Linked DNA regions of Homo sapiens: regions 1, 2 and 4 are each linked to region 3. The links come from fine-mapping of genetic effects on gene expression. A gene starts in region 3. Each other region holds a variant in brackets. All regions are shown on one strand. Distances are from middle to middle. Region 1 overlaps TMX4 (thioredoxin related transmembrane protein 4). Region 2 overlaps HAO1 (hydroxyacid oxidase 1). Region 3 holds the start of TMX4 (thioredoxin related transmembrane protein 4). Region 4 overlaps TMX4 (thioredoxin related transmembrane protein 4).

Region 1 (8,140 bases), 40 kb before region 3:
GTCACACATACCATCTACACCCTCAACCTAGGTCAGGTTCCTTTTTATAAACTCATATAGCATTTGTTAACTTTTTCACTTGTAACTCTTTTCCTGCTAATATTCACCTTCCCAAGTAAAATACAAACTCCATGAAATGACAATTCTCAGTTTGAAAACTCTGGTACCTTGAAGAGCCACAGTGGTCAAGTCCAGCAGGAAGACCTCCAGCACTGGGGCCATATGTACTCTGCCCTCTCCTGCCATATGTGCATTCATACTATGTCCCAGGAGCTTACTCTATAGAAGGTCCTAGGCTCACAAAGGTGGGCAAGAAAAAGTCACTGTGGCAAGAGATTGCTAGCTCTCAAGTTCCCTTTGTTCTTAAGCACACAGCAAGATTACACATCCTAGTCTTCCTTTAAGTTAGGTATGACCCTGTGACTAAGTCCTCTCACAGGAAATGTGAACATAAATGATGCACGTGTGGCAGCCTCGCTTTAAAATCTCTCAGCAATGTTCCTCCATCTCTTACTCCTCTGACTGACTGGGATGGAAATGATCACAGCCACCTTAGCAGCCACGTTTTTTTGGTTGTTTGTTTTGAGATGGAGTCTCGCACTGTTGCCAAGGCTGGAGTGCAAAGGCATGATCTCGGCTCACTGTAATCTCTGCCTCCCGAGTTCAATTAATTCTCCTGCCTCAGCCTCCTGAGTAGCTGGGATTATACGCACCTGCCATTACGCCTGGCTTATTTTTGTATTTTTAGTAGAGACAGGGTTTCGCCATGTTACTAAGGCTGGTCTCAAACTCTTGATCTCAGGTGATCCACCTCCCTCGGCCTCCCAAAGTGCTGGGATTACAGGCGTGAGCCACCATGCCCGGCCCAGCAGCCACATGTTAAACAGCAAAGCCTCCCTTGACCTTGAGGCCCAGAAAAACCTGCATGGGACAGAGCCTGCCTGGGATGCCTGGCCTGGGCTATGTGAATCAGTAATACAATTCTTGTTCTTAAAGCCCCCGAGATTTGCGGGTCTGTTAGCACAGGCTGGACTGTCGTAATACAGTTATCAATCTCAAGAAGCTCACATGTTCCAAGAAAGAATTTCTATTACTGTGAAATATGTTCCAAAGAGCATTCAAGACTAGAGCAAAGCAGGGGGTTAAATTTGTAATTCAGTGTTGTTGGCTTGAAAGCTGCATTTTGCTATAGGCAAGGATGAATAACCAAAGTCATCTAGGCAGACAGCACGACAGACATTTTTCTCTGTATAGGCAAATAAGCATTCTGAGCCAGTATCTCTGAGGGAGGGCCTTGGTGGTATGCAGGTTTAGTAACTGTCTTCTCACTACACACATCCCCCACCATCTTCCAAAAGACAAAAATCCAATCTCCATTGTTTCAGTCTCTGAGGGTGTTTCAAGGACCCACCTTACCACCTTGATGCTTTTCCACTATAGTGGTGGGGAGAGTTAGGTGTAGAAGGGAGTTTTCTGAAAGCCCCAAAGACAAGACCAATCCACAGTGTCTTGGGGGATTAGTAGCATCCCTTGCCATCTGGCTACCCCAAGACCTCAGGACAGAGGGAGACCCCAGAGGTTTCTGATGGCAACACACTGGCTGGAAGAGCCTTGGATCTTTGGACCCTGCCTTGGTTTTGTGCACTTTCCAGAGCAACTAAAGGGCACATGGTCTGAGTTTCACCGAGTCAGGAAGGGAGAAAGAGAGAGAATGAATGAACAGACTAGATGGAGGATGGACACGAAGGAAAATTTTTTTTAACAAATTAATATTTTTTGCTGCCTAGGCAAATGGCTTTTGTGAAAACACTTGTATGAAAAGCAATACACCATTTGTTTTTACTTACCAATCACTATCATTAGGTTTTGATGCAAATGGGAATTTACAATAAAATGAAACAAATAGGATCAGGGATTATATACAATACTGTGATCAAGTGATTTGTGATTCAGGCAATGTACTACTTGAAACACATATCTGGATTTCTCATTCCAATTGCTGCAGATGCTATTTGAGGAAGCAAAGAATACAGAAAGAAAAATAATTAGGTTCATTAGGCTAAGACTAATACCAGTAATATAAACAACAAATTTATAACATATTGCATTGCAAATAAGCAATGTTTTTAGTATAAAAATTGCATTTCCACAAAGAAGCTAATAACAAATACGATTAAACCACTTCAGAAACACGTCAAAGTTGTACGAGTCACACATATACAGTGTCACAGTCTACATAAAGCTTTACTGAGAATAAGCCATCTGAAGGGCATGTCCCGGGCTGAAGCGATCAAAGGGCTTTTCAACTGAAGTTCTTACTTCCAGAAAGCTGTTCAAAAAGCTGCCCCATCAGGTTCAGCAGGCTTGATGACTCCAAATTTGGCTTTTTAAGACAAGCTAAAATCTCCTCCAGAGAATCAAAATGTAGGACTGAGGTAAAGAGATATTAAACAAGAAGGAACTTTTCTGTTGGCATAAGAGATTTGAATGAATTCTTTCGAAAATGTTGGTACATTTGACAGGATGGGTCAACCACATATTCATAATACTGACAGAAATAACACTGTAACACCAAGATGAGGGACACAGATAACCTATTGATACGAGCAACAGAACCAGCCTCCCTCTTCTTTCTCTCACTTCATACTAAAGATTTTATGCTGAAATCTCAGGTTTGCCGTAACTTTTCCACCTTTTTTTAAAATTTATTTTTCTCTGGACTTCTAATGTTTCCATCCTATGAAACAACATACCAGCTCCACTACTGATGCATTTGGTAATAAAAAGTCACATGGTAAGTATTTGCCTTAAAAATGACTTTTATCGTCTACCCCAAAGGTGTTTTTACAGGATGCAGGTTCTGTAGACTGACATATTCCCAAATCATATTAGAACATCACAGCTGTCAACAAGGAATTTTGGCCATAAAAAGTCAAATTTTGTTTTTTTTCCACTATCAAAAGCCAACTCAGCTGAAGCTTATCTATTTTCTACTACAGTAGTTATTTTGAATGTATAGAGCTAAAGAGGCCTGTGGCTAACAGACAGGGATTCCATGCACAAGAGCTTTTAAGTATGTGCCCATGCAGTGCAAGGCCCTGTGAACCCAACAGGCCCTGTCCCTCATCCCATCCAATGACTATACTTCAAAGGGAAAGAAAGATGTGGATTGCCTGTATGTTGCTTCAATATGAGATCTCTGAGCAAGCT[G/A]GGTTGGTTTAGCAGATCTAGCAAGAGACAAATAATAAGAGAAACCAACATAAAGGTAATCAGAAGTTTCAAACTTTCCTTCTAATTGATGAAAAGATACCCTGCTCCAACTCCCCAAACATAAAGCACTGCACATTCCCATTCCAAAACCAGTTACCTGCATTGCATTCACCTAATTTTAATTTACATAAAATACCATTCTGTGACTAAATAACTGATACTGCAATAGAGGGAAGCATGATTTTAATTTTTTTTTTTTTTAGATTTTAAAAATCAAAATCATGTTTCCATGCACTTGAGTTCCGGATCAAATATATTATCTACAGAAAAAATCCACAAACTCTTATCGAAATGTTCATATAAAGTTTAAATTATTTCAGGTTGGCTTTTCTCCTTTAGTTTTATATTCATTAAGTATTGAAAACAAACCTAAAATCTTCAAGTGGAAAGATATTAAATTAAATTTTGTTGGAAAAAAACCCATCTTTGCCATGATGTTAAAAAAGGGAAAATCAGGAAAAATGGTTCCCACAGATATTTAAAGTTTTAATGGGTCCTCTTCTCCAAGATGTTTTTCTCCTCACCCTTCAATTTTTTTTAAAAGTATTTCTGAGAAAGAAAGTACATTTTCTGCCAGGTACGGTGGCTCACACCTGTAATCCCAGCACGTTGGGAGGCTGAGGCGGGCGGATCACCTGAGGTCAGGAGTTCAAGACCAGTCTGACCAACATGGCGAAACCCCGTCTCTACTAAAAATACAAAATTAGCCAGGCATGGTGGCACATGCCTGTAATCCCAGCTACCTGGGAGGCTGAGGCAGGAGAATCCCTTGAACTAGGGAGGCGGAGGTTGTAGTAAGCCAAGATTGTGCCATTGCAGCCTGGGCGACAACAAGAGTGAAACTCCATCTCAAAAAAAAAAAAAAAAGAAAATACATTTTTCTTATTATATAATTAGATATAGGTCAAATATCCCTTATCCAAAATGTGTGGGACCAGAAGTGTTTCAAATGTTTTTGGATTTGGGGATTTTTGTATATATATAATGAGGTATCTTGGGAGTAGACCCAAGTCTAAACACAAAATTCATTTGTTTTATATACACCTTATACAACATAGCTTGAAGGTAATTTTATCCAATATTTTTAATAATCTTGGGCATGGAACAAAGTTTTGATTGCACTGTAACTGCCACCTGTCAAATGAGGTCAGGTGTAAAATTTTCCACTTCTGACGGAATGCTGGAACTCAAAGTTTAAGATTTTGGAGCATTTGGGGTTTTGGATTGTTGGAACGGAATGTTCAACCTGTACTATTTGGGGTCCGGTTGGAAATTGGCTTTACATTTTTAAAAGCCAGTGTAGACTGTATTTCTGCCTTACCTTCTCTCTAGTCAAATACTCCACTAAAAAAATGAATATTTCAGTTTGAGAGGGAGGAATTATATAGAAAAGCCAAACTATGAAACCATTCTTATTCCATAATACCTCTGAACCTGAGTTTACTGTTCTTTGAGAACTCTGTTTCAGCTGATTATAAGAGAAAGAAATCCAGTGACACGAGGGCAGGCAGGCCCCGCTCTGCTCTGATCGAGAAAAGCTTCCTGATGTCAGGGAGATGGAACTGCCACCATCAGAACCATGGCACTTTGGGTGAAGGTGTGTCAGCGACCAAGGGGGCAGGAAATGGGCAGTGACTAAGGGGGCAGGAAACAGGCAGGCACATGGCAAGGTTCTCCCAGCCCATCAGCCCAGTGATGGCCTCGATTTTGAAGCTGCACTACTGTCTGAAAAGCACAATTACTGGTGACTCTTAACAAACTTCAGCATACTGGGGAAGGAGACTGTCAAGTAACTGAATTGGAAAGATGAAAAAGAACCATCTCTAAAAGTTGATGCTGTCAGAAGAATAACCTCCTTTGTGCAAGTCTTGCAACATCTTCATTCAACCACAGGAGGGCAGAGAGTTTCAGAACCTCCCCCACCAGTGAGCTCCGTGCTCACAATTAATACAAGGAAAGGGTTATCTAAACAGCCAGATAGAAATATACTGCACGTTCCTTTTTAAAGACGACAGAAACTTTTAGAATTTCATAAACCTGTACTCATTATTCTGTCTGGATCTAAGGAGCATAGAATCAACTTTAGGCATCTTTCGTATGCTTGGAATCGAATTTCATGAATTTATTCTAACACATAAATCAGGTAAGAGAGAAGTAGATGGATAGATTTTTTTTTTTTAAGGAAATTAGCCTCCCTGGGTACTTACAGTAGATTGAGTATTGAGAGATTTACAAAGATATAATTCTTTGGAAGATTACAGAAGATGGAAACAAAATCAAATCTTTCACTTTCAGGTACTGGAGTTCATTAATTCTTTCACCAAAAGCACATCACTGAAGGAAAATCAGAAGTGGTTTTTTAGTTATTATTAAAGTAGTTCAAGACCCAGGGAACCCCTTGAGATGAAAACAAAACAGTATTCAACTTTTCTTCACAAGACTACCTTGTACTGGCAAGACTTAGAGGACTTCTGGCTTGAAAAATATTGCTTAGAAAACTTAAAAAAAAATCAACAACAACTATATTTTGGACAAAACAATTTTTTTTTAATCTGTCTTGTAAAATCCTTACTTCCTTTTGAGTCTCTGATGGCCACAACATTTCATTTGAGATGTTTGGCAGTCACAGCTTCAGGGGTTATGGTTACTGATTATCTAAACCCCTTAGGTCAGAATGAACAAACACAGTTCATGTAAACCTGGCTGTTATTGGAGTCCTCTGACCAAGAGATAATAGTGAAGAGTGTGGAGAGCCTGAATGCCCATGGTGGAAATGCTGGAAAAATTAAAGGTAAGAAATAAAACATAGCACAGGAGATTCAGAGGGCTGGGATGACTTCTGAGCTGCTCTCTATACCCAAGGCCCTTTCAATTTCTAGCTGTGAAAGATTTTTCATGCACTGTGGTGCCTGATGTTTCCTGCAATTTGACAAAAATAAATACTTTACACAAGAAAAGGATGCAAGGCTTCTACGTTACACTTTGGGGATGCTCAGGAGCCAAGGCTCCTGCTTGGCTTTCATTTCACAGGGCCTGCAGCCTTGTCTCTGGAAGGTGCTGATTAGGACTGGGAATGGCCTCCTCTGGTCGAGACTCTCTGACCCCTAAGTAAATGAACTTGTTCCCATCCCAGTCTCCAAACAGATCCCAACACTACGTTTGTTTTTCTATATCCTGATTGTCACACCTGGAAGACTCTCCTTAGTATACATGAGGCTTACTGCCATGAGACCAAATGACTAGAGAGCATCTTTTAAGAGAAGCTTGCTCATTCAGGAAAAATTAAGGATTTGGTACAAACTGCAGGCCAAAGGGAAGCTGACATATTGTTTTGGTGTGTATTCTTGAAAACGCATCATTAAATCTACAGTCCCTTGTCAGCATGCTGACTTTTACGCTGCCTCAAGGAGTCTTCCACCACCTCTGTGTCAGCTGGGCAGGGTTGCTCAGAGATGCCTTCTTCAGCCTCCTCAGGCTCTACTTCCTCCCGGGTCACACCGTCCTCTCCTGGGGGCCCCTGATCATTGGCCTCACTTCTCTCCTCATCCACACCAGCAGCCAAGTTGTCCTCCTCCTCTTCTTCCTCTGCTTCATCCTCATCGCCAAGATCTTCTTTCTCTTCTTCATCATCTACAAGGCTGTCTTTGTTTTCTTCTTCATTTGAATCATCTTTTTCCTCCTCCGCATCCTGCAACTGTTCAGCTCTATGAGCCTCCTCTGATCTCCGATTCTGCTCTATGGAGGGAAGAAAGAGGAATATCCTCTGAATAAACAATGGTAATTCGGTAATCAATTGAGTGTGTTTAGCTGTGAAATAAAAATAGAGGGTAAGTGACAGTTTTTTCTATCTTGAAACTATGGTCATATAGGACAGATTCTCTGGTTGGCATCCTAGCCCCATTTAGGGCTTCTCCACCTGTCTCTGGAGATTTCATGGACCATAATGACTTCAGCAGGGCATGTGGGCAGCAAGGGCAAAGGGTCCTTTACGCTCGGTATTTTGTGTCTTGTAGAAAGCTCAGTGACCCTATTGGTCATGGTGATTGGTTCAGAAATGTGACATGCTAAGCCACTCAAAGTACTCCACAGAGGTTCTGGGCCAGAGTCAGGAGAAACAGCCTCTTTTTCTTCAGGGATTTTTAAACAGAGAAAATGCGCAAGGACTATCAACAGCTCTTATGAATAAGCCACACAGACAGAGAAACCTAACATCACTTGGGCCGTGCTTGAAGCTAGAATGTCCCTGGGCTTTTCAGTTATGTGAGCTAATAAATTTTCATTTGTTTTCCTAAAATCCTTGATATTGGGTTTCTATTACTTTTAAGAAATCTAAGAATCATATTTTCAAATTATCAATGGAAGTCTCAAAGCCTCAAAAACTTCAAGAACTAAAAAGAAACATGAGCTTATTTAAACTCCCACATAAAATTCAACAATTAGAAAGTCTCATGAACATCTTTATGCAGTCTCAAAAATAGTCTGGAATAAAGACATGCAAATCCAGAGGCACCTGGCCCCAGAAGAAGTGTGGAGCAGTGCAAGGATTTGGGAAGACTGCTTTTAAAGGACTTAGAAGAGTTACTAGCACACAGCAGAAGCAATATATATTGAGTTTCCCTTCTTCCCTTCTAGTTCTAGTTAGAATAAAGGAAAATATGACACTGATTAATGAAGAGCACATACTTAAAAAGAAAAAGCAATTGCCAAAATGAAATATTTCCTAATTTAAGAAAGGGAGAAAAATAATTTTGTTCAAATCTACCTAGAAAACACATTTTAAGAAATTTGGTAGTGATTATTTGGTCACCTAGTAAATCACAGAGAAAACCCACTATCTATATGAGCACAAAAAGGCACATCACAGAATTCC
Region 2 (8,140 bases), 140 kb before region 3:
TATTTTTTTAAACTGGAAAGCTACATCAAAAAGACTTTATATGACTTCGCCAGGATAATCACATAGCAGGGTTGGTCAACTTAAACTAGTCTTGAGTCTATTAGATTACGTTTCCCCAGTGCTCAATTTTATTCATAACATCTAGATCTGTGCTATTCAATACACACCCACTAGGCACATATGACTACTTAAATTTAAATTAATTAAAATTAAATAAAATGAAGCATTGAAACTAGACACATTTCAAGCACCCAATAGCCACATGTGGCTGATGGCTACTATATTGGAAGTGCGGGTAACATTTTCATCATCACAGCACATTCACCAGATAGCACTGGTCTGGATAACAAAAACCTCTAAGGAAGTTTGTTGTCAAAGAAAAAATGTTCAATAATTTATAATATAATAACCATTGCTATTAATGTCATTATAATGTGTTTGGTAAGGATCACATAGAAAAGTAGAGAACAATGTTGTAAGAATATATGTTAATAATTGATATGAGACTTATGCTGGTTGTTTTTTGTATATTCAAATTTAAAATAAAATACAGTGGGTTAGGCATAGCTGTGCTTCACAATTGTAAGCCATGTGACATTTAGCTTTAACTTAGCTTAAGTCATTGAAATTCAAAGACAAAGAAATAATTTTTTAGACATTGGGTTTGGAAAGTGGATGTGGGGAGATTATGTTAAAACATCACGAGCAAAAGAGTAAGCCAGTTTTTATTTCTTCACATAAAATTCAATGCCAGAAAGCAATCCAAAATGTCTACAAACAGAAAATGTGACCCCAAAGTAGTATACCTATCCATGGTGTCATTCAAATACAAGAACATCAAGTAGATTTTTAAACATGCACAAACTTAAAGAATACCAGCTATTTTTGAAATTACAGTTGGCCAGTGAAATCTAGGGAACCAGGAGGTGAATCAAAGGTAAGAACCAGAGAATGGAGAAGCTATGACAATTATAAGTACCGAGCCCATTTAAATGAAAACCAGTATTAAACAATTTTGGAAATCAATGATAGAGAAGACAATGATTTATACTTTGATAATTTAAAAATTATATATATACATACATATATATATATATATATATTTTTTTTTTTTTTTTTGAGATGGAGTCTGGCTCTGTCACCCAGGCTGGAGTGCAGTGGTGTGATCTCTGCTCACTGCAAGCTCCGCCTCCCGGGTTCATGCCATTCTCCTGCCTCAGCCTCCGCAGTAGCTAGGACTACAGGCGCCTGCCACAACGCCCAGTTAATTTTTTGTATTTTTAGTAGAGACGGAGTTTCACTGTGTTAGTCAGGATGATCTCGATCTTCTGACCTCGTGATCCACCCGCCTCAGCCTCCCAAAGTGCTAGGATTACAGGCGTGAGCCACTGCGCCTGGCCCTAAAAAGCGGGTGCAGTGGCTTATGCCTGTAATCTCAGCACTTTAGGAGGCCGAGGTGGGGGGGGATCACCTGAAGTTAGGAGTTCAAGACCAGCCTGGCCAACATGGTAAAACCCCATCTCTACTAAAAATACAAAAATTAGCCAGATGTGGTGGCACATGAGTGCAATCCCAGCTACTCAGGAGGCTGAGGCAGGAGAATCACATGAACTCAGGAGGCAGAAGTTACAGTGAGCCAAGATCACACCACTGTACTCCAGCCTGGATGACAGAGTGAGACTTCATCTCAAAAAAAGGATATATACATATATCCTTTTATATCCATATATATATATATGTACACACACTAAAGGGGAAGAGAAGAGGAAAAAAGGAGAGTAGATGTAAGAGACTACTTCATTTTTTATAGCAATGAGTTAACTGGTGCTAAAATTAAAGAAAGTGTATGCCATAAATCAAAAATTACTTTAATCTTTTAAGTTTTCATAATTTTCCAAATACATTGTGTAGGCACTTTTAATCTACGATATATCTTTTTGAAAAAAAATTACCTTAATTTTAAATGTTTCCAACTTTACTTTTCCTTCTACAAATTCAAGTAAAAATAAATTGAATCTCTTACTCAAATATAACATGTATTGTATAGTCCTATTTTAGTAAAGCTGTAACCATCCAACAGGTTCATTTTGCCCACTGCACAGATAGAGCCAAATTTTCAAGCCACAAATTGGCAATACAGAAAGAGTTTAATACATGTAGAGCCATCTAAACAGGAGACCAGAGCTTTATTATTACTCAAATCAACTTCCTTGAAAATCCAAAGGTGAGGATTTTTCAAAGGTAGTTTGGCTGGCTAGGGAATGGGTAATGCTGACTGGCTAAGGATGTAATCATAGGAGTTTGGAAAATGGTCCTTGCGCACTGAGTCTGCTTCTGGGTGGGGGCCACAGGACCAGCTGCGTCAAGAGTCATGGATCAGTGTGGGGCCGCCCAGTCCTCAGAAATGCCAAAGACTGAAAAGACATCTCAAAAGGCCAATCTTAGGGTACACAATGGTGATGTTATCTGCAGGAGTAATTGGGGAAGTTCCAAATTTTGTGACCCCTGGAATAAAGGCTGATCATCCTTTAGGCCTACATCTTAACAGAATTTAGGCTCCTCTCATCCTCCTTAGCTTTACAAGGGCTGTTTAGTTTTTAAGAAGGGCTGTTATTATTTAAACTATAAACTAAATATCTCCCAATGTTAGCTTGGCCCAAGCCCAGGAATGACCATGGAGAGTTCAGAGGTCAAAGGTAAGATGGAAGTTGATTAGATCAGGTCTTTTTCACTGTCATAATTTTCTCATTGTTATAATTTTTGCAAAGGTGGCTTCAAAACCACTTCTATCTATCCAGTTGCTACTGATTATTCAAACACAGCAAAGTCTGAGATGATATTCACCCAATATAAATAACATTTATCTCTCTGTGGTAAAATCTGTGGTGATGTTTATTTTACTCTGTAAAATATTCAACTTTTCTCTAAATAAATACTATAAAATAAAATACTTATTAGAATGTCTTTTATTCTCTTTCCTGATAATAATCATTATTAAACTATTAATATAAAATAATATTTTCCTTTGACTGTTGATTTACAGTTCATGATAAATTCTCACCTATTTCACCATGCTGTGTTCATAATGACCCAGAGAGGTAGACAGATGCTGCCGCCCTCATTTCTCAGCTGAGCATCTGAGGGTCCTCAGATTACATAACAGTTCACCCAGCTAATCATTCAGATCTTCAGGATTCTAACTCAGTGCTTTTGAGCAGGTTAGTCTTGATCTTCATTAAGTTTAGTAAGAAAGCTCGAACATACCATGTAAAGAATCTTACCATGAAAGACTCTATCAATATGAAGATTCCACTGTTAGAAACAGACTCAGGATGTTGACTGTAATGGAAAATAAATCAGCGTTAAAGACAGATGATCTAACCAGAAAAGATACATAGGAAACCAAGCAAGGTTCTTTTCCCCTGTGATGCTGAATCAAAGGAACAAACAAAATCAAGCCTATCACTCACTTGAATTCCAGCTCTTCTTTTGGCATCATTCAGGGTAACACAATTCTTAATTTTTAGAAGGTCCTGGAAAACTTTCAATAGAACTTATACTCATTATCTAAGATCAGAAAAATGTCAGTGGAAAAGCAAACAGATAACTGGATTTAAAAATAAAAAAGTATCTTTTTCTTTCCTCCAACAATGGGCAAGTACATTAGGGAGGAAAGAAGACACCTATTGCTCAAGTTTGATTTGGGTAAGAACAGGAAATTGCATCTTTTAGAATAGATGAGATTTCCCATCACATAAACATATAATAATAGCCTCCTATCATTTGAGCTAACATTTACATTACCTAAAATAAACTGTCATCCTGATGTTGTTCTATAATTGGCATGTGACAGAATGCACGCTGAGGCAAATATAAGTTCGGAAAGCATCCTGTCTTTATGTTAAAAGAAATCTTCGGACTTTCCTAAACGGACAAACTTTATTTTGTTGCTATGCAACTGACATGGAACATAGTCCATCAGACAGTAAATAAGTTATGAATTTTACAATGAAGAGAAAAGTCTTTTCTCTCTGTTTGAGAACAAGCCACAACTTCCTTTCATG[G/C]TTTCCTAATCCACCACAGCCCTCTAAAGCTGTTTCACAAACGCCAATGTTTTGGCAAGATAAACAAGCAAATGAATAACACAGCAATGACCCAAATGCAGTCTGCAAACATCACGCTAAGAGGCATCAATACTATTCAATTCATTCCTACAGGCCTGGGAACCTGGGCTCCCCAAGCCTCGTAAAGAGAAGAAGGTTTGTTTCACACCCACATTCTTCCAGGTAGCTGAATATAAATAAGCTTAAACAAAGGAGATTCTGGCAATTTCTGTTGGCAGGCACCCATCACTGCTACAGGTCTCAGGCATTATTCTGTATCAGGGCATAAGAGTGATTTCAGCCATGAGGAAAACATCTGTGAGGATAAAATGTTTTAGGGTTCAGACTTGTGGCTTGTGGGCCACATCCATGTTTAACATGACCTGCTCAGTGTTCAAAATGTTAAATATCGTCCAATATTTAAAATTTTTTACATAAAAATCTGAATGTCTTGCATTTCTTGAAAAATTATAAAATAACACTGAATTTGCATTTTTGCAAAAATCATTTAGAATCAACTTCCAGCAGAAAACTGGAAAAAAACCCAATAGGATAAGAGATAGATAAATTGTGGTACATTCCTACAATGGATTACTACAGAGCAATAATCAGAACTAACTTCTGATACACTCAAAAACATGAATGGACTTCACATATGTTAAGCAAAAGAAACTAAACACAAAAGTGCACACTGTATGGTCCCACTTATGTGAAGTGTAAGGCCAGTGAAAACCAATCAATGGCAATGGAAATCGGCATAGGTTTATCTCTGGTAGAAGGAGTATGTTTGGAGATGATGAAAATGTTCTGTATTTTTATCTGGGAGGTAGGCATATAGGTGTAAATGTAAAGTGTAGCCACCGATACACTCAGGTTTCAGCACCTTACACACCTCGCTGTATGAATTTCATATGTCAATAAGAAATACAATTCAATGGAAAAGGTATCAATTGGCTAAGGAACAGCTGGCCTTTTAAGGTGAGGCTTGGCCTCTCTGCCTGGAGCCCACACCCAATAGCTGGCTCACATAGATGGCTGCAACAGAATCCATGGTGTGGGGCCCAGCAATCTGTTTCAGCGAGCCCTGCCATTGATTCTGATGCACTATCAAAGCTTGAGAAACTGCTCTAGAGCACTATATCCACAAAATAACATACACAAAAGGCAGAGGCGGCCGTAATGAAGCCCTGTTACCCCTCCCGCCAACATATTTCAAGAAACTTAGGAAGAGAGGCGTTTGTTGGCTTCCTCAAAGAAATCTGTCTATCAAGCCTAAGTTTCAAAACTCTTGGAAGGGATTGTACAACTAACACACACCATTCCTCTTTTAACCATTACACACTTTTGATTTCAGTACTGTTACAATTGGGTCCATATCACTCATTAAAAAAAAGTAAAAGCAAACAGCTGTATATCTTTGATTATGAAAAAATTATCAAACAAAAAGCATTCAGATATATTCCAACTCTGAAAAAATAAATGAAAATCTACATTCAAGGAGTTATTGTGGCTCAGGGAATCTTAAAAATTATGAGAAACTCACGAATTAAGACCAGTAATCCCCATTCTCACTGTTACTTGCATAAACCTTACATAAAACACCACTTGGAGATCTCTATTTTCTGGGAAGTTATCAACTTTTAAGCAAGCGCCCACACAACCACACACTGTGATGTAGTCAAAATGGAAATTCTGTGCCAACAGAGAAGGCATTTTGAATCTGTTGAGGGAATTAGAGGTGCTTACTATATACTTATTCATTGATCAATATTAATTGGAAAAGCATAAAACAATTATATGATATGATAGAAATATTTACTCTGCGTATTTTGAGAAAAAGTTAAGGGATAACTTTTCTTTTTCATAAAGTTAAGTGATTATTTTTTACCAGACTGGTATATAATTTCAGAAAAAAGTTTTTTGTGTGTTCATGCTAATATTTAGGAATCTCCTAGCATTTAGAAGGAGAAAGGGAGAGAGAAAGAGTTCTGGGAATAATAAAGCATAATAATAATAAAACATAATATAATAATCATATTTTCAGGTAGTGATTCTCTGAATTGTTTCATTAAGTACCTCACAGTGGTTGAACAACCAGAGAGATGACGAAAAATCAACTTCAAAATTACTTTGGCTACCTAGTTCACCTCCAATTTGTAAAATGCTTGGTTTGGGAATGAATATAAAAGTCACGTGATCAGGGCTTCATGGGCATGCTCCTCATGCAGTGGACAGGGCTCCATGCTCAGAAAGGGGACTTGGGCTTAGGGTTTGATGCTCTGTGGTTATTGGCTTGAAATACTTAATAATGTTATCATTGAATTTGTTTTATAAGTGATGCACGATGCAACAATGGAACTTGTGCCGGGGACACTGAGAGCCTAGCATCATACATTGTTCCATCTCCTGCCACCTCCCCATGTCTGCTAAGTGAGTTCTTGGTTGCTGGCTCAGGCATTCTGCTTAGTATTTTTGCCCTGCACCCCCAGCAGGGTTCTGGGCATGGGCACAGGTAAGATCAAGGCAAGTTGTAAGGCAATACCCCAGGCACCTGGAAGGCTCTACGCTTGCCATGTGGGTATCCCCATGCCCAAGGAAGCATGACATGAAACAGCAAGTCTCCATGACAGCTTAAGAGAAAAACTGTGGAAGGAAGGAAAAGGGTTTTGTCTTGCTTTTTGAACAAGGGGCCCATATTTTAATTTGGCATAGTCCTCACACATTATGTAGCTACCCTTGCACATGGTTATCAATGGTAAAGAATCAAAAGAGTAAAGAAAGAGAAGTAGGAGGTATAGGATAACCAATAAGGTATGCAGAAAGGAAACGAGGAGGTAATTAAGGTTCAGAAAATAAAATTAAAATTTCATATTGTTACAAAAGGACTAGATATATTCTTCCCAAAAATGCTTTATTTCTCTCTAAGAAGTAACATACATCCTAAAACATTTGGATATATTCAGACACTAAAGATGTGATTGGAAATCTACATTCAAAGAAGTATCACCAATTACCGCCACCCATTCCAATTCTCTCCAGTGCTACCTTCTCAAAGTTGTGAATCAGGCATTACCAACACTTTGAACCTGAGCTTACAATTTAAGAACCACTGTTTTAAAGACATGTAAACAGAATACAGGTTAATAAACAATGAGATCATTATCTTTTCACCTTAGTGTTTGCTACCTCCAATTTTACTAAAGGATACAGCACTTTAGCCTGCCAGGGGATGACGTTGTCTAAACACATTTTCAATGTTTTCTTTTTAACAGTTAATATATTTCCAGGATGAAAGTCCATTTCTTTCTAAAAGGTTCCTAGGACACCCATTGAAAAGTCAAAAGCAATGAAATAAAAGGGATTGCTATTTTGTTGGAAAAGAACGACACCCTTTGTATTGAAGTGGGGAATTACAGACTGTGGTCACCCTCTGCACAGTGTCTCTTTGTCAAGTAATACATGCTGAAAAAAAATAATACAGATGGGAAAATATTGTGCACTGTCAGATCTTGGAAACGGCCAAAGGATTTTTCCTCACCAATGTCTTGTCGATGACTTTCACATTCTGGCACCCTGAAAAAATAATGCATACATTTAATATGAACTGAATGCAATAATAATCAGGCAGGTAATCGTTTTCCCAAGGAATGTAAAATTTGACAAATGTAAGGTTTATGATTCAAGGTAGGCTTGCCAAATCTTATGTGGCATGAGACCATTTTTTATTACCTAAACAGTCCTTAACACAAAATGACTGGCACATATTTTTATTAACACAAAGAGTATATTCTTTCTGCCACATTTAATAGAGAGTCAGTGACTGAAAGCTCTCTTTTAGGATATGTCTGTAGCAAATTAAAATGCATAGTGAGGATTCACAGAATGGCATTCTTCTTGTTGAGGCTCTGTCTGCAGACTGAGTACAGTAGTGAGTAGACCATTTATCTGGGGAGTTTTATCTATGGGAACAATCCAGATGATATGGATTACAGAAAAGGAAGCCCTCTTTACCTTCAAAAATGCGGTAGCTGATAATC
Region 3 (8,140 bases):
GAAAAGGCAATAATTTATAAAGATTTATATGCTTTACAGAGGTAAACTAACCCAAAGACATACTTTTCTTCTGAGTATCAGCTTGAATGTCAAAATTAAGCCACTTGGCTATCTATTTCTTCTGGGGGAAAAAGCCACCAGAATGTATCATATTACATACTTCCATGTTTCAAAAGAACAAAAGTCATTTTCTCCAGGACTGACATAATGAGAGCCAAGCAAATGTTGAAAGTAGCAAAAGGTTGCAAAGGAACTGAATGAAGAATAGTATAAAACAATGGCAATAGAGAAAAGCATGCATCATACAGTAGTTTAAAGATTAGATCATTTTTCCTAATTCAGAAAAAGGGCAAACGAGTATACAATAAGCCCATAGCCGGGTGCCTGTATTCCCAGCTACTTGGGAGGCTGAGGCAGGAGAATTGCTTGAGCCCGGGAGGCAGAGGGTACACTGAGCTGAAATCGCACCACTGCGCTCCAGCCTGGGCGACAAAGTGAGACTCCATCTAAAAAATAATAATAACAACAATAAGCCCATAGCATTAAAGAAAATGTATGTAGCAATGGGAGAACTTTTCAGATTTCTAAAATCATCAGAATAGAAACGGTGAATTACTGCAAATATACTTTTAACTCATACATTTTTAAAACACTGGAAATTCAATTGCAAGAATCCAAAAAATTGACTGTTTGAAAGACTAAGAAAAAATAACCAAATTTAATTTCATAATAGAAGCTTTTCATGTCTCAGGGCTGCCAAATACTGCTAGATTCTTAAGAATAAATTATCTATACCAATATAACCAGAAACTGCATTAGAGGGGATCTGTATGACGTGGCGTATAAAAGAAAAAATTCCCAGATGAAAGAGCGCATATAAGCAAATGAACAAATAAAGAACTCTCATTCAAAGTAATGAATACATTTTGATATCGGAAAGCTTCTCAATCTGTGTCTTTAAAGAAGTTAACTACAACAAAAGCTTCTCAATCTGTTTCTTTAAAGAAGTTAACTACAACATCTTTGAACTACTAACAATTTCCATTTATGTATGACCAGCTCATCTGAACTAAGTGTCAAGATGAAGCTAATTTTAATGCATTTTGTTTTTCTCTGTTATATACATAAAAAAAAAAATCTGGTAACGTATAGGCTATTTAAATGAATTCTTAGAAATTCATAGCAGGCCTCTAGTGGTATGGAGGATATAATGAATTTTATATTTTTTTAAGTACTGGAGTTTTTTTCACAGCAAGGAGGAGGAGTATCACCTGATAATACAGAAAAAAATAGATCACAAATAGATAAGAACCAAAATATTTCTTCAGGATGAGCACTTGGGTTTTAGTGCGTATAAAGAAGTTGGATGGAATGGTTTGGATCAATTTTCATTGACAGCCTTGCTTCCTAGCCACCTATTCTGAAGTGCACTCGATAAAAAGAGAATGTCTACTAAAATGACCTTGTGTCTACACAGCTTACTTCCAGATTACAAGACTCATCTGGCATCACAGGCCAAGCATATTCCATACAACTGGACACATGACAAACTCAGAGCAATTGATTACTATGTTTAGGTTTATACATTCATAAAAAAGTAAAATTTGAACCATCAACATGGCCAAGCACAGATGTTGTTGGCTCTCCCTCAAAAACTTATTGAGGCTTTAGTGTTCTTAATTCTATTACCAAAAAAAAAGCAATTCCAAAAGGAACCATAGAGGAGTTGAAGTCATTAAAAATGAGGAGGCCTTTCTGTTTTAACTTTTCTTACATACATATGCAAACTCAGTTTTACCCTGAAAGATGACATCTAGGAAAAAGTCCATTTTGTAAGCACCTACTGAAAAGAGAACTTTCTGTAGTATTGGCTGACAAAATGCAGTTTATCCCAAACTCTTAAAATTATTACAAACATGGAAGTCTTAACACAGCTCCACTTATTTTAAAAGTTTCTCAAATAGAATATGACCCCCTCACCTTCTTCCAAAAATAGTTAAGTGGAATATTTTAATAATTCATGTCTACAGTTCCCTTTAATAATTTCATTGATTTATTATGATACCAAGGGTATTTCATTTGGAGGTCTAAAATATCCCCTTCTTTGTGACTAAGAGGTAAATGCACATTTGAAGGGGTGATATGCCTTATGTTCTTCGAGCAATGTAATCTGCTGTGTGACATAAATTTTGGCTCTGATCTCACACTGAGGTTTTCACTCCATAGGCACCTGCTTGCAATTTAAATTGAAAGAATCAAAACTTGGTCTTGGATAAAGGAAAGATCCAATTTTCTGTCTGTGTCCTCAACGTAAAACAAAGATTCAATAGTAGTATACAGATTGCCAGAAACCACAGGCTAAAGAGATGTGGCAATTTCCTGAAAGATTTTATGTTTGGGGGGTGGGGGCGGGAGGGGGGCAGGTAGGGTGGAAAGGAGTTGTGGGAGGGGAGAGAGAGACAGAGAGAGAGAGAGAGAGAGAGGAGGGAGAGAGAGAGAGAGAGAGGAGAGAGAGGAGAGAGAGAGAGAGGGAGGGAGGGAGGGAGAGAGAGAGAGAGAGAAGAGAGAGAGGAGAGAGAGAGAGAGGGGGAGGGAGGGAGGGAGGGAGGGAGGGAGGGGGAGAGAGAGAGAGAGAGAGAGAGAGAGAGAGAGAGAGAGAGAGAGAGTCTGCAAGCCCACCATGATGGTCTCTCAAGCCCGCTCAGACATCTGCCCACCATCCACTGCAAGCCTCTTTCAAATGGTCACTTCCTATTATAAGGTTAAACTATAATCAACAAATCCCTTTCTTTCTCCTAACTCAAAACTGTAGTTTCCCATCTCCTTAAAGAAAAGGCACTATCCACCATTTGCTTTCTATTGTTAAAAGGGGCAATGCGTATCTTCTTTTCTTTATGGCACAATTATTAATATTACTCAGAAAGTCCTACCTTTACAAGTTATAATAAGTATCAACATTTATTTGAAATCATACTGTAAAATTTAAAAGGCATCCATATTTATGTTTTATTCTCACAATGACATCTCCAGGTCTTCAAACGGAAGACTACGACACAAATGGCCTGCCTTCACCGTGCTGCAATTTCTTCAACAGGTAACTTGCTTAGCCTGTGCTACGTATTCATACTGCACGTGGATGTCACTGAATGTCCTTTCTCTTCCAATACATATCTGTATCTAAAAGCACACGGTTTGCTTGCAGATTTTCTTCCTTCCCTTCTCCTCCCTATGGGAAGCTGCCCACTCCACCCCGAAAACACTGTCCCCCAAAGCAAGGGGACGCGCTGCACCCTCGGCTGTCACCGCGAGGGCTCGGCGCGCATGCGCGGCGCGAGCGGCCGGGCCCCACAGCCGCAGGTCGTTGGTAAGGCGGGTCCGCGGACCCCAGGTCGAGCCCAGCGGCAGTGCAGGATCGCAAGCGGCCCGGCACCGGCGCCGCAGGTTGTTGGCAAGCCTGGTCCGGGGTTTTAGGTTGAGCCCAAGCGGCAATGCGGGATCGCCACCGGGCCGCGCGGGCTTGGGAGGGTGACGCCCGCGAGGACACTGCGGCGTCCGGGGCGGGCGGGCACACTCACAATTTCAGCATCCACTCGCCCTCCATCACCAGCGTCCAGTTGGAGGCGGTCATGGGCTGGACCCGGCTCTGCTCCGGCGGCAGCGCGGCCTCCTCGGGGCCTGCCGTCGCCGCCACAGCCGCGATCCAGGCGGCCAGGAGCGCCGTTAGCTGCGGGCCGCAGCGCCCACCCGCCATGTTGGGCGCCGAGCGAGGCTTCTCGGCGGGGAGTGTGGGGAAGGGCAGCGGCCGGCCCGCAGCCTCGCTCGCCCGCCGGGTTTTTCAAGGAAGCGGGAGACGCAAGGGCCACCCCGCCTACGCCTAGCGGCGCAGACTGGCGGTGCTCGCAATGCCGCGGAGGACGCCACCTCTTATCGCCGCTTGCCCGTCGAGGCCACGCCCCCTCCCGCCTCCACTTGCCGTTGCCCGGGGTGTCGGTTACCTCAGCAACCACCGCCCTTTCTTCCTGACCGCCAAGCTGACAATAAACAGATGACCCAACGTTGCCTAAGTTAGAACATGCACCGCTGCTGCCCAGGCTCCAATAAGGGCAGGGTTGGCGCGTGTGGGCTTCTCTAAAGGGAAACATGGCCAGTAATTTTAAAATCCATCCCCTCTTCAATGATAGCAAATATAAAAGCAACGGGCTGCAAGGTACACGTATGTTTAATGAAAAATGGAGGGACGTGGTGAGTATCTCCTGCTGAAGAGAGAGGAAAATTTAAGTACTCTGCATGTGTATATTGAAGCATCACTAATTTAGGATATTGATGAAACTAGCCTATGCAATTGCATTTTTTTTACAAAAAATGTTAATTTCATAGAAACTCTTAAAAACATGGGTACTAGCCGATAAAATGAGTCAATTAAGACTATTGCCACCTGCAGTAAAATGGACCTCACATTTCTCTTGACTACAGTTTTGTCAGATCTAAAATGAGGGTAGCCTTAAGTGATTTCCAAATTTCTTTCCAGGTCACATTAGATGAATCTGTACCTTGGGACCACCACACCGTTAATATATAAGACTGGATTACAATTAAAGGATGAGGAAGCTTTCTCAAAGGGTGCTTTGTATGTGTTTACTAGTTGTGCAAACCATGAACCTCGGTAATGTGGTTAATAGACCATGAAAAGGATGTGGTTTCTGCCCTCGGCTTAAAACAAAGACAGCAATAAGACTAAAAGTACTTCAGGGCACATGAGAGCAAATTTCAATCAATACTTATAGGAGAGGGAAGTTAATTTTGCCTGAAGAGAAGATCTGGCCTGCATTATGCATTAATTAGTATTAGCTAAAAACTATGTGGACCTAGCCCTTATCATTAAAATAAAACACTCAAGGGTTTACAAACTATTGAAATTTAAGAAAATGTCTTTGCAATGAATGCTACTAAGACTCACTGTTATTAAGTACATACATATCAATTCCATAAACTCAATGGAAAACATTTTACTGTGCTTGTAAAAAGAAGTGACTCATAAACAGGAATTCTGTCATTTTATCACTTTCATGATAGAATGATGTGTAGAATTTGTTTTACAATGCTCCAGAAATAAAATGTAGGGAATGGAAAGAAGATAGGTGAAAGAAAAGTGGTGCAACATCAGTCAGTGTTGAAGCTAAGTTCATTTTGCTACTTTACCTACTCATGCATATGTTGGAAAATTTACAAAATGAAAAGCTAAAAGGAGAGAGAGCATCTTCAGCATGAAAGACAGCCATTACCAAAGCATTTCCTATCTTTAACAAAAACTGAAGTCTTAGCCTTCAGACTAAGGATGGTAGGAAGAAAGTAGCAAGGAAGTATGGGACTGACCTTGCCGTAAGGAGTCACAGACCAGGGTAAGGGACCTGTTGCTGTCAGACCATGATTGGCATCTTAGCCCTGACACTTCCTAGCCATGTGATTTGGGGCTAAAACTAGTCCACACCAAAGTTCTCTTAAAATGCGGGTAGTAATAGAACCTGCTCCAAAAGGTGGCTGTGAAGATTATATGAGATAAGAATAATGCCTAGCACATATTCTAACTCAAAAAGCTTACATATTAGGTTGGTGCAAACATAATTGTGGTTTTTGCCACAATATTGCCAACACTAATATTATTATTTGGAGGCAACAATACGCTGTAATGTCTATTTTTCTTATACTAAAGTTAACTTCACTTAGCATGATACACAATGCCTCTCACAGCCCAGCTTCAGTTTTGCCCACTTTACATTCCACTATTCCCAGAGTTCCCTGTGTCCTAGTAACACAAAGCTACTCCCCATTCCCAAAGCACATTGTGTACTTCAGTGTCTCCTTGCTCCTTCATTCTGATTAGAACACTCTTCTCCAGTTGTCCAGTGAATCATTCAGTCTCTGTCATGTAGTCCACACTGTACCTCTGATAGCTCATGCAGAATGAGCTGCTGTCTCTTCTCAGATCCAATTGCTCTTCTGTATAACTGATATGGTTTGGCTCTGTGTCCCCATCCAAATCACATTTTGTAGCTCCCCTAATTCCCACGTGTTGTGGGAGGGACCCCATGGGAGATAATTGAATCATGGGGGCGGGTCTTTCCCATGTTGTTCTCGTGATAGTGAATAAGTCTCATGAGATCTGATGGTTTTAAAAATGGTAATTTCCCTGCACAAGCTGTCTCTCTTTTGGCCTGCTGCCATCCGCGTAAGACATGACTTACTCCTCCGTGCCTTCCACCATGATTGTGAGGCTTCCCCAGCCATGAGGAACTGTGAGTTGAATAAACACTTTTTCCTGTATAAATTACCCCGTCTCGGGTATGTCTTTATCAGCAGCGTGAAAATGGACTAATACAATAACTTCACCACATACCTTTCATAGTATAATGCATTTATATGTAGCTATCACCCTCTACCCTCACTCCTCCAACCACTACTAAAAACTCTTCAAGGTCAAGGGCTTTACCTTATATATCTTTGTGTCCCCTGTATTGCAGAATACCCATCCCATAGATGTACTTGGGATAGACAGCTTCTGGCACTCCTCCCAAGATCTCTCCCTCCTGGTATTCAGGCCCTTGTGTGATCCTTTCCTCTTGAGTGTGGGTTGGGCCTGGTGACCCACTTCTAACAGAAGATGGGAAAACTGATGGATTATCACTTCTTTGTTAAGGTTACAAAAACCTGAGACTTCCATTTTGCTGGAAACTTCTTTTCCTCTTGCACACTCACTCTGCGACTCTGTGTGGAGAGCTCCATGTGACAAGGGAGGTCTGCAGCCTAAGCAACTGAGACCTCAGCCCAACAGCCCTCAAAGAACTGGATCTTCAAACAACCACATGAGTGACCTAGAAGCAAATCTGTCACCAGTGCTCTTGAGACGGGTGAGCCTTATAAATGACCCAGAACCAGGGGGCAAAGCTTAGCTTAGCTGGGACCTCCACCCACGGAAACTGTGAGGTAATCAATGTTGTTACATAATATCAAGCCACTAAGATTTGGGGCAATTTGTTATGCTGTAATGCTATGCTAGGTCAGTGTGTGATCCATGTTTATGTTTAAAACGTGGATTTACAGGTTTAAGAAGATTGGTACCTGGTACTAGGAGAAAAGGCTTTTTCCCCCAGAGTGATGGTGGCACTGCAGGGCAGCTATGATTACACAAAAATATGTGGTTCCTAGTAGGCAAAGGAATTCCTAGGCCTCTGATGAGGTAACATCATTAGCAGGAGAGAGGGGAAGAAGAGTGTGGTAGATCCTATCTAGTCCCCCTCTCTTTCCCTGCCCCACAGAGGAGGATGCTCCTACACCCCTCAGAAGTTAGTCATATTTATATGAATTGGCCAATGGGCTACAAATGGAAGGGGTGGGTATGTATCATTTCCAGGCTGAAGTATTTAATCACCGGCACAAAATGTCCCAGTGTTCTGTTCTCCTGCTGTGGAAATTTTAGAGAAAAGATCATGATCTAAGAGTCTACAAGACCAGAGCAGCCTGAATTGCTGAGCTGCCTGGTGGAGAATAGCAGCATTGGGTGGTTCCCAGGATTCTTAAAAGGACTTTACAAAGGTAAGAAATACGTTTTCACTATGAGAGATTATTCAGGTTAACTATTTCTGCCTAATCAACCATCCCAAAACTCACCTCTCATGGTTTTGGGGGTTCAAGAGCTCAGCTGGGCTATATTTGCTTGTACTCTTTTATATGGTGGCAGACCCCTGGAGGCCGAGGCCAGAATTAGTTGAAGTCCCTTGCACCCACATCTGGCACTTAGTGTAGGCTGGCTGGAACAGCTGGGGACTGCACAGGCATTGCTCTTATCCACGCAGTCTCTCCATGTGGCTGGCTTCGGCTTCCTTCAGCATGGCAGTTTGAGGGCTGTCATACTTAATTTCTCTAGAGCAAGAGTTCCCAGAAGGTGGAAACTGCATTGCTCTAGAAGTCTAAGAGTGTCGTTTCTACCTCATTCTATTAGTCAAGGCACTGAAGACACACCAGACTGAAGGGGAGAGGAATTAGACTATCCTTTAATAAGAAGCAGCAAAATAAATTGCAGCCATACTATCAAAAAGCCACTCTGAAAATTTGGAATTGTCACTGAAGCATAGTCTAGCCTATT
Region 4 (8,140 bases), 24 kb before region 3:
CACCAGACTTGGCAGTGATGCTTCCTGAAGTTCAATCTTCTGCACATTGCTTTTATGATATTCACCTCACCTTGTACTATCCATTAGAGTATTAACATTTTTCATTTAGTCACTAAGTTGCATACAATTTTAAAGAAATTGGATATTGCTACTATAATATAAAATCAAAATCAATTTTGTCCTTTGAAGATGTCAACTCTCTGAGAAACTCCTCTAACTGTCCCATCTCCTAGGCCTCAGTGACTCCATCTGTGAGATGGGTAAAATGTTGAGACTATTTGTGAGGATAGATATTAACAGCTAATGAGGTAATTACTTCTGTGAGTTTATATAAAAATTAAAATATGCAGGTGAGCGCCATCATGAGTGAATTGGAAAGAAAATTTAAATTTAGTGATGGAAAGAACACTGGAGATCATCTACTCTTGTCCATATTGTGGTATGAATGACATATCGAGGATCCCTGGGATTCAGGGTAACAGCAGGAAGCTGACAGGAACTGCCTCATAAGACTATTCAAGGGACTTTCTCACCTCAACAGTTTACTCAAGCAAGAACATAGGGGAGGTTGGTATGAAGTTAAGAAGGCCAAATGCAAACCAAACCAACTCCTGAGTTGATAGGAATTCGGCCATGTGAGTGTCTCATCACCAGGTGATCCTAGAATCTTGAGGACCAGCTTTTATCTCCAGAATGTGCAACCTAGCAAGTTGGCTTCACTTCTAAGGCAGAAAGAAACCCAAGCCCCTTAAGGAATCACTAATTCAGTAGGCGCTGATCTTCTAGATATATCTCTGATCTTCTAGATATCTTCTAGATAATTACTAGCTCAATAGGCTCTGATCTAAATATATTGTTTTCATTTTTTCATTACAGAAGAAAATAGAAGTTATAGAAAAAACGTTTTTAAAAATCACCCATATCAGAGAAAACTACTGTTGATCTCTAAGCATTTTCCTATATACACACAAAAACGCCATATAAACATCCATTATACTGTTTTGTCATCTTCCCTGCAGATATACTTACATCTAACCAGCTACCCATCCAGGGAAGACTGTTGCTGAGGAAAGACTGATTTCTATCTGTACATGTATCCAGATATTTCAGTAAGATAAAGAGACTATGGATAGGCATAAACAATCTTGTCTCACTGGCATTAGCCATTCTACGTCTTTCCTTCTTCCATCTTTATAATCTTCTTTCTCTGAGACTTTACACTTTTTTGGTTCCACCTTCCATCCCTAGTCTATTTCTGTCTCACCATGTACAGTTGTTTCTTCTGTTCATTATTAATATATTTGCATTGTAGTTTCATATGATCTAGACATGAGTTAAAAAACAAATACGTTTGCCACAATTATACATTCAACATGGATTTGAGGAACTCTGACTAAAGGAAGAGTCAGCTAAATGAGCTAACTGAGCAGGCAGGGCAGTCAGCTGGAAGGACTCGCTGAGTAAGTGGCTCTATAAAGACAGGAAGGCAAGACCATAACTAAAGGTGGGAGTGGGGACCAGAGACCTGATGGGTAGCCAAGGACTGGGTCTCTTTAGGTCAGAGATGGTGTGCCTTATAAATCAGAGGACAAGGGCCACATTCTAGAAACACAGGTGGCAAGAGACCTACCTACAGATCTGATGAAAGGATGGGGACTTATTTCTAAGAATAAATCACAAAAGTTGGCAAGAGGCTTGGGGAGGCTACATGCTGATATGGAGGGCAGTATCAGATTTCACAAATTATTAAGGTAATGCACACACACACACACACACGGAGATCAAAATAACACTGTATCATTTGCGTTCTTTTATGTGCAACTCTCTTCCATTCCCCTACATACACACACCCTACAATCAGGACAAATGTTTTAGTGATCCCAATAAATATAAATGGATTAAATTCATCAGTTAAAAGAATTATATCTTGCTATATACTTTTTATAAGATTTATTTAAAACATAATCAAAAGGTTGAAAATAGAAAAATTACTCCATGCAAATGCTTATAAAAAAGAAAACACATGGTATTAATACTAGATAAAACTATTTTACAATTATACATTTATATAATTGTACATTTTGCATTCTACATTTTACAATTATAAAATGTAATTACTTGTGTGCCAAATTTTAGTTTATCTTATAAAATGATCATTTTTGGTTCCTTTTGGAAATATCTGGAAATTATAAATATACATTTATATAACATATATATTCTACTTCTCAATCATTAAGAAAAACATATTCATTAGTTATTCAGACATGGATCACATTCTGTTCTCCAAACGGCTCTTTCTCTCCAGTTTAATGCATCCACACAGAATACATCTGTGTTGCCCATAGCTGGGCACTGTGTGTACAAAGATAAAACACCCACTCCTGGCCTTGACACACTCTAAATGTTACACATTGTAATCATCTGCATGACATAATGAAAAACTGTAACTCCTTATTTAAACTTGTTTGTCTAAGCTCCAAATTACAAGCTATATGAGGTCAGGGCCATTATGTATCTTCCCTGCTATCGTCTTTGAAAGTAAAACTTCTCTTTTACAGTCAATGAAGGCCATAATCAGCTTCCATCTAAGCTCTTCTTAACCTGCAGAACAAATTCTATTGCACTTATCATAGGTTTGGTGCTAAAATTTCACAGTCAATGCTGCCTGACAACCATCTACTCCAATTTTTCTGTTGAATTAGACAGTATAATGCTACACGGCTCAAACAGCCATCAGGCTACATGATTTTGTCAGTCTTTAATATCAACATACTGCAAAAGGCAGAATCTCTTTTCAATTCCCAGTTTGCAATTCATAATTCTTAGCCCTTGATTAAAGTTCTCACCAATGTTAAGAAAGCAGCAGAAGGAAACCACATGAAATTCAAACTATCTGGAGAGGGGGAAATATTAGTTATTGTTTATTGTGAGACAAATGCCAAAAAAAGTTAAATTTTAACCTGAAAGACTGAAACCAAGTCTTCAATTCGCCTCTGTTGTAAAAAATAAACAACCAAAAAACCTTGTGGTAGGTATTCTATCTCACAAGGCAGAATATAAATGGAACTGAGAAAGTGGAATACAAAAGGTTTTTCTTAAATGTCTTTCAACATATATGAATGTGTATGAGAAACAGAAAAAGAGTCTTCACAAACTCTTTGAATATTATGTTCCAAACATGACACCATAACCTACAATCATAGCATAGAAAAGACATATATAGGGAGACTCGCTTCTAAGACTTTTTGAAATATTTTGAGCTATATTTAATTCCAGAGCCATTTTGTTCAATCTGGTTGGATTTAGTCCTCCCCTACAGAGAAGGGAAATAAAAGGTTATGGGACATACTCAACATTATATAATGGTTCAAAAATTAAACCTGAATAACAGTTCTAACCCACTGAAATGACTCAGAGAAATTATACGATCACATATAGCAGGGGTCTACTACTTAAAGGCCAGATTGTAAATATTACAGGCTTGTGAACCACAATTCT[C/T]TGTGTCTGTCACAACTATTCAACTGTACCATTGTAGCATGAAAGCAGTCATAGACAATAGGTAATGAATAAATGTAGCTGTCTTCCAGTAAAATTTTATTTACAAAAACAGGTAGCCCATCCACAGGCTAGAGTTTGTTAATCCCTGACATACAGAACTACTTTCAGTCTTAGACAATCTTTCCTTTGTAGGGAGATATGCCTACAAAGAAATACATAAGATAAAGTAAAATCACATAAGCCGTTTTGCTTGGATGAAAGACTTCACCACTGATTTAAGAAAATAAGACCTCGACACAGTAGTTACAGGTTACTGTTCAGATTATGCCCTTCTACATGACGACATTACCACTGGAAACCCCACATGAGAGTAGTTGCATGGCTTAAGAAAAAAAGTGAAATTATAAATGTACTTATAAATGTTTGTTTTCCTATTGCTTAAAAGCTGTATTTTTATTCTTAACCTCTCTGCAAATATAAACGTTTTATTTAAGATTACTTACCCATATCTTGCCAGAGATGCTAAAAAGACCAGCCATTCCAGACATCCTTAAAAAAAAATAAAGAGAAGAAACAGTGATCATATATACTATAAAAAAAAAATGAAAATCAGGTCAGGAGGACTGGTCTATTTCCCTCCACTTCTTGCTAAATATTGCCCCCTCTCCCAGATTCATATCTGTTCTTACAGAGCTTAGATTCAGTGGCTATCATTTGAATCACTCTGCTGTAAATCTATTCCAACTCCTTGGCCCTTTCTCCTTTCATTGTGCCTACCCGGCAAAAATCTCAACACTGAGCAGCTGAATGTCTCCAGGGAAAAAACATCACATAACCAGATGACAGTTCTTTCTGCTTCATAGTCCCAAACCTAAGTGGACACGTAATACTGTCCAGCACTTTCTAAGCTCTAAGAAAATAGCTCATTTCCTTTTCCTTCTCTTCAAAACGTACACATCTTCCCATCCCCATGTACTCAGCTAACAAGCACTCCTCATATGTCACTGTGAAATCAGAAGCCACCATGTGCTTTCTCTCATCTTCCCACTACCAAATCTGAGCCTGGTGTCCACCTGCATCCACCTTCTCTTGTTATGACAGGAAAAGTCTAACTCTCTTATCACAGTCCAATTCCTCCACTTGTGCCTTGGATCCTATCCATTTTGTCTTATTAGGACTTGGTTCTTTCTCTCATCCTCCCTTCCTGCACGAGCAACTTCTCTCTCTCTCCTAGAACAGTCTCACTGGCATATGAACATGCTCTACTCTCTTTTACCCTTTAAAAAGAGTATCCCTGGACCTCACATGACCCTCCAGCTTCACAGATAAATTTCTCCAGATTACTCTACACATGCTGTTTCTTCTCTACTGTACCTTTAATCGATTAAAATCTGGCTTCCACCCTCACCACTACAGGAACAGATTGTCAAGGCCATGATGACCTCACCATGTTTCATTCAATGTCCATGTCTCAGACCTGATCTCCCTTCGCCTCTTAGTAACATGGGATACAAGAGACTACGCCCTTCTTCTTGAACACTCATTTGGCTTCTGGAAAATGGCAGACCTTGGTTTTCATGTTGCCTCTCTGGTACTCATTTTCAGTTTCCTTTGGCTGACTTCTCAACACAGTTTCTTAATTTGGGGGTGGCCCATGACTCATCCCCAAGTACTCTTCTCTTTTTCCTTCTTTCTAGGTGTTCCCCTCACCTCAACATTGTCTGTAGGTTTTTTTGTGTTCCTGAATTCTTCATGGGGACCCATTTCCATGCATCTGATATGCTTTGAATCTGTATCCCCACCCAAATCGTATGTTCAATTTGTGAGATATGATAAGGTTTCCCTTCAAATAGCCTAATCAATCTTTTAATTCAGAGTTAACCACCCCCTCTTTTTTTCCTTTTTCCTTTCTGCCTTTGTTAAATGCGCAGGCATGCCACAATACCAGCCATTATCAGTACCAACTCACATTCCTTTCCTTATTTAAAAAAAAAAAAACAACTTTCTGACTCACTACAGACACCCTTTCCCCTTTCCTCTTTCTTCTATGTGCCCACCTTATCTAAAAAAATTCAAATGTTTAGCCAACTAAAATTAGTTTATACACCTGACCCCAGCCAATAAAAAAAGGATACAGGGGCAAGACTTGCGTCAAAAATAAAGGCTCTCGTACTCCTTTGTTCAAGTGTGCTCTCATGGCGACTGGCCAAAAAGGCACCTCTCTGCGCAAAAATAAAATTGCTTTGCTAAATATCCTTTGTTCAAGTGTTCAATTTCTTAAAATTGTAAGCATTATTCCTAACAAATTGTAATCCCTAATGCTGGAGGTGGGGTCTGGTGGAAAGAGAGTGGATCATGGGGGCGGATTCTCATGAATAGTTTAGCACCATCCACTTGGTGCTATTCTCTTGATAATGAGTGATCTCTCAGGAGATTTGGTTGTTTAACAGTGTGTGGCACCTCCATCCTTCTCTCTTGCTCCTACTCTGGCCATGTGATGTTATGTGCTTCCCCTTCGCCTTCCACCATGATTATAAGTTTCCTGAAGCCTCCCCAGAAGCCAAGCAGATGCCAGCATCATCCTTCCTGTACAGCCTGTAGAACCATGAGCCAATTAAACATCTTTTCTTTATAAATTACCCAGTCTCAAGTATTCCTTTATAGCAATGCAAGAATGGACTAATACAGCATCCACTGTGACAGTTCTACAAAGTCTGCATCTCAAACCCAACAAGATTTATACAGAATCCTTAATTTTCTCTTGCCCAAGGCAATAACAAGTACCAAGATCCATCATGTACTCAAACCAGAAACTTGTAAGTTTTTATTAATGAATCCTTCTTCTCCTTCACCTTGGCCAAGCCTACCTTCATAACATATTTAAAATCCACTCAGCCTCTCCATCCCCACATCCCCACTGCTGCCACCTGACACAAGCTACCACTCTAAGCCTCAACTCACTTCATCCATTCTTGCCCTCTCCAATCTCCTCTCCTAAGGGTCACCTTCTCCTTGTGTGTGCTGATCACTTCCAACTTCTTTCCTGTGGCCACAGGCCCTGCATGACCTGGCTTCAGCCTGCCCCTCTTACTCAGCTCATCCTACATTCCCTTTCACTATGCTTGACCCTGGTCACCATTCTGCTCCTTAAGTACACCAAGCTCCTTTCCAAACTGGGGCTTATGCATATGCCATACCCATTCCTGGGAATAATCTTCCCTCTGCTCTTTGCCTAAGCTAGTTCCTTCTATCATTCAGATCTCACCTAGAGGCGTCCCTTCAGAGAAATGTCTCCTACTCCCTCCATCTAGAAGAGCAGGTCCATAACCCCAGAGCTATCCCATCTTTGTAAAATATGTTGTTGTGTTTTTTATCCACCCTCATCCCAACTATGATTCTCTGTACCTGAGGTGAATGTCTGTCTTGTTCAGTGTTGAATACCTAGCACCTAGGAAAGTATCTGGCTAAATCAGTGCTCAAATGGTTGTAGAATGAAATGTGAGAGTTGTTTTTAGAGTAAGCTATGTGTTTCCTTAATATTAATATAGATGCCACTAGATGATTTACTCCTGAAATATTGCTTGATTTGCTCCTTTTTCAGTAGGGAAATTTCTTACACTTGTATATACTAACATAAAATTATCTATATATATGACAATCCATTCAAAACTAAAACCAACTGTGGAAAAAGCTGTTATGGTTTGGCCTAATCTACCTCACCAAGTATTATACAGTTTGCCGTCAAGGCCAAAGCTATCCCCTGTGGTATTTTGCGAGGCAGCCAAAGACTCCACAGGTTTTGTTTTCCACATAATATATAATAGCAATTCCTTCATAAACTATAATTCAATAAACAGTTATTCCTCTGTCTCATCAATAACTTAAAAGGAAGAAAGAATGGTAAATGATGTTCAATACCATATTTTGTAAAGAGAAAAATAGTCATTGTGGCTTAGTGTAAAAGCTGGAAAAGAGGCGTTCTGTAACCCACTCAAATCTGGCTACTTAATTCCCAGTATACTAAAAACCAGCTGAAACATATGTAGGTCACAAAATCAGAAATACTGCATGGGCTAAGCATGGCCATGAGTAATCTGGGTAATTGGAAGTAAATGTGAAGTAAAACATAGGCTTTTTTGAGACCCACAGGCTATTAACTTAAAACCTCCTGTTTTATTAGTAACACCTTGTCTTAAAAAATTGAGTTACGTTAGAGAAGCCGGGGATTTCCAGCCAGTCAGAGGCTCGACTGATTGCCATTTCTTCTCTAAGATATAATTCTGCAGGTCTTCGAAGATTCCTGGGCCACGATAACGGCGGAATATCCCATCCTTTGCACTATAAATTATGAAAACAAGTAGAAAGCAAATGCATTAAAATAACGATGTTACAGATAATAAAAATTAAAATAGCTACTGGTGATACATCTGAACGCCATCTGAACTTTAAATTGACTCAATTGAAAAATATACATAGAGATAAATCAGAAAGAGTTAATAAGCTTTACTATAAGTGAGAAATTCAAACCTAAAAGCGTTAACATTCTATGTTATCACCGTACAAAGTGTGACTAAAAGCAGAGTTCTTGGCAGTGTTTAATATGCCAAGTTACTTTTTATTATTTTTGCTACCAATTACTTTT

What was found.
Region 1: its variant is fine-mapped to the expression of TMX4 in whole blood (TOPMed, PIP above 0.99).
Region 2: its variant is fine-mapped to the expression of TMX4 in whole blood (TOPMed, PIP above 0.99).
Region 4: its variant is fine-mapped to the expression of TMX4 in whole blood (TOPMed, PIP above 0.99).

What each region holds. Positions count from the first base shown.
Region 1 is chr20:7,975,617-7,983,756 of GRCh38, forward strand. TMX4 (thioredoxin related transmembrane protein 4) reads right to left here. Exons shown (of 8, transcript NM_021156.4): 8 at 1,730-7,005. The coding sequence ends at 6,635. Among named protein-coding and RNA genes, the nearest start is that of HAO1, 39 kb to the left of the region's middle. The variant G/A (reference allele first, on the strand shown) is at 3,211.
Region 2 is chr20:7,875,988-7,884,127 of GRCh38, forward strand. HAO1 (hydroxyacid oxidase 1) reads right to left here. Exons shown (of 8, transcript NM_017545.3): 8 at 6,998-7,676. The coding sequence ends at 7,606. Among named protein-coding and RNA genes, the nearest start is that of HAO1, 60 kb to the right of the region's middle. The variant G/C (reference allele first, on the strand shown) is at 4,065.
Region 3 is chr20:8,015,863-8,024,002 of GRCh38, forward strand. TMX4 (thioredoxin related transmembrane protein 4) reads right to left here and starts at 3,899. Exons shown (of 8, transcript NM_021156.4): 1 at 3,576-3,899. The coding sequence starts at 3,751. It overlaps TMX4-AS1 (TMX4 antisense RNA 1), which reads left to right and starts at 4,044. Exons shown (of 7, transcript NR_184034.1): 1 at 4,044-4,242; 2 at 4,529-5,399; 3 at 6,197-6,293; 4 at 6,519-6,587; 5 at 6,695-6,905; 6 at 7,409-7,590. RefSeq lists silencers at 3,410-3,549, 3,660-3,899.
Region 4 is chr20:7,992,025-8,000,164 of GRCh38, forward strand. It overlaps TMX4 (thioredoxin related transmembrane protein 4), which reads right to left. Exons shown (of 8, transcript NM_021156.4): 4 at 7,708-7,836; 5 at 4,002-4,047. Among named protein-coding and RNA genes, the nearest start is that of TMX4, 24 kb to the right of the region's middle. The variant C/T (reference allele first, on the strand shown) is at 3,499.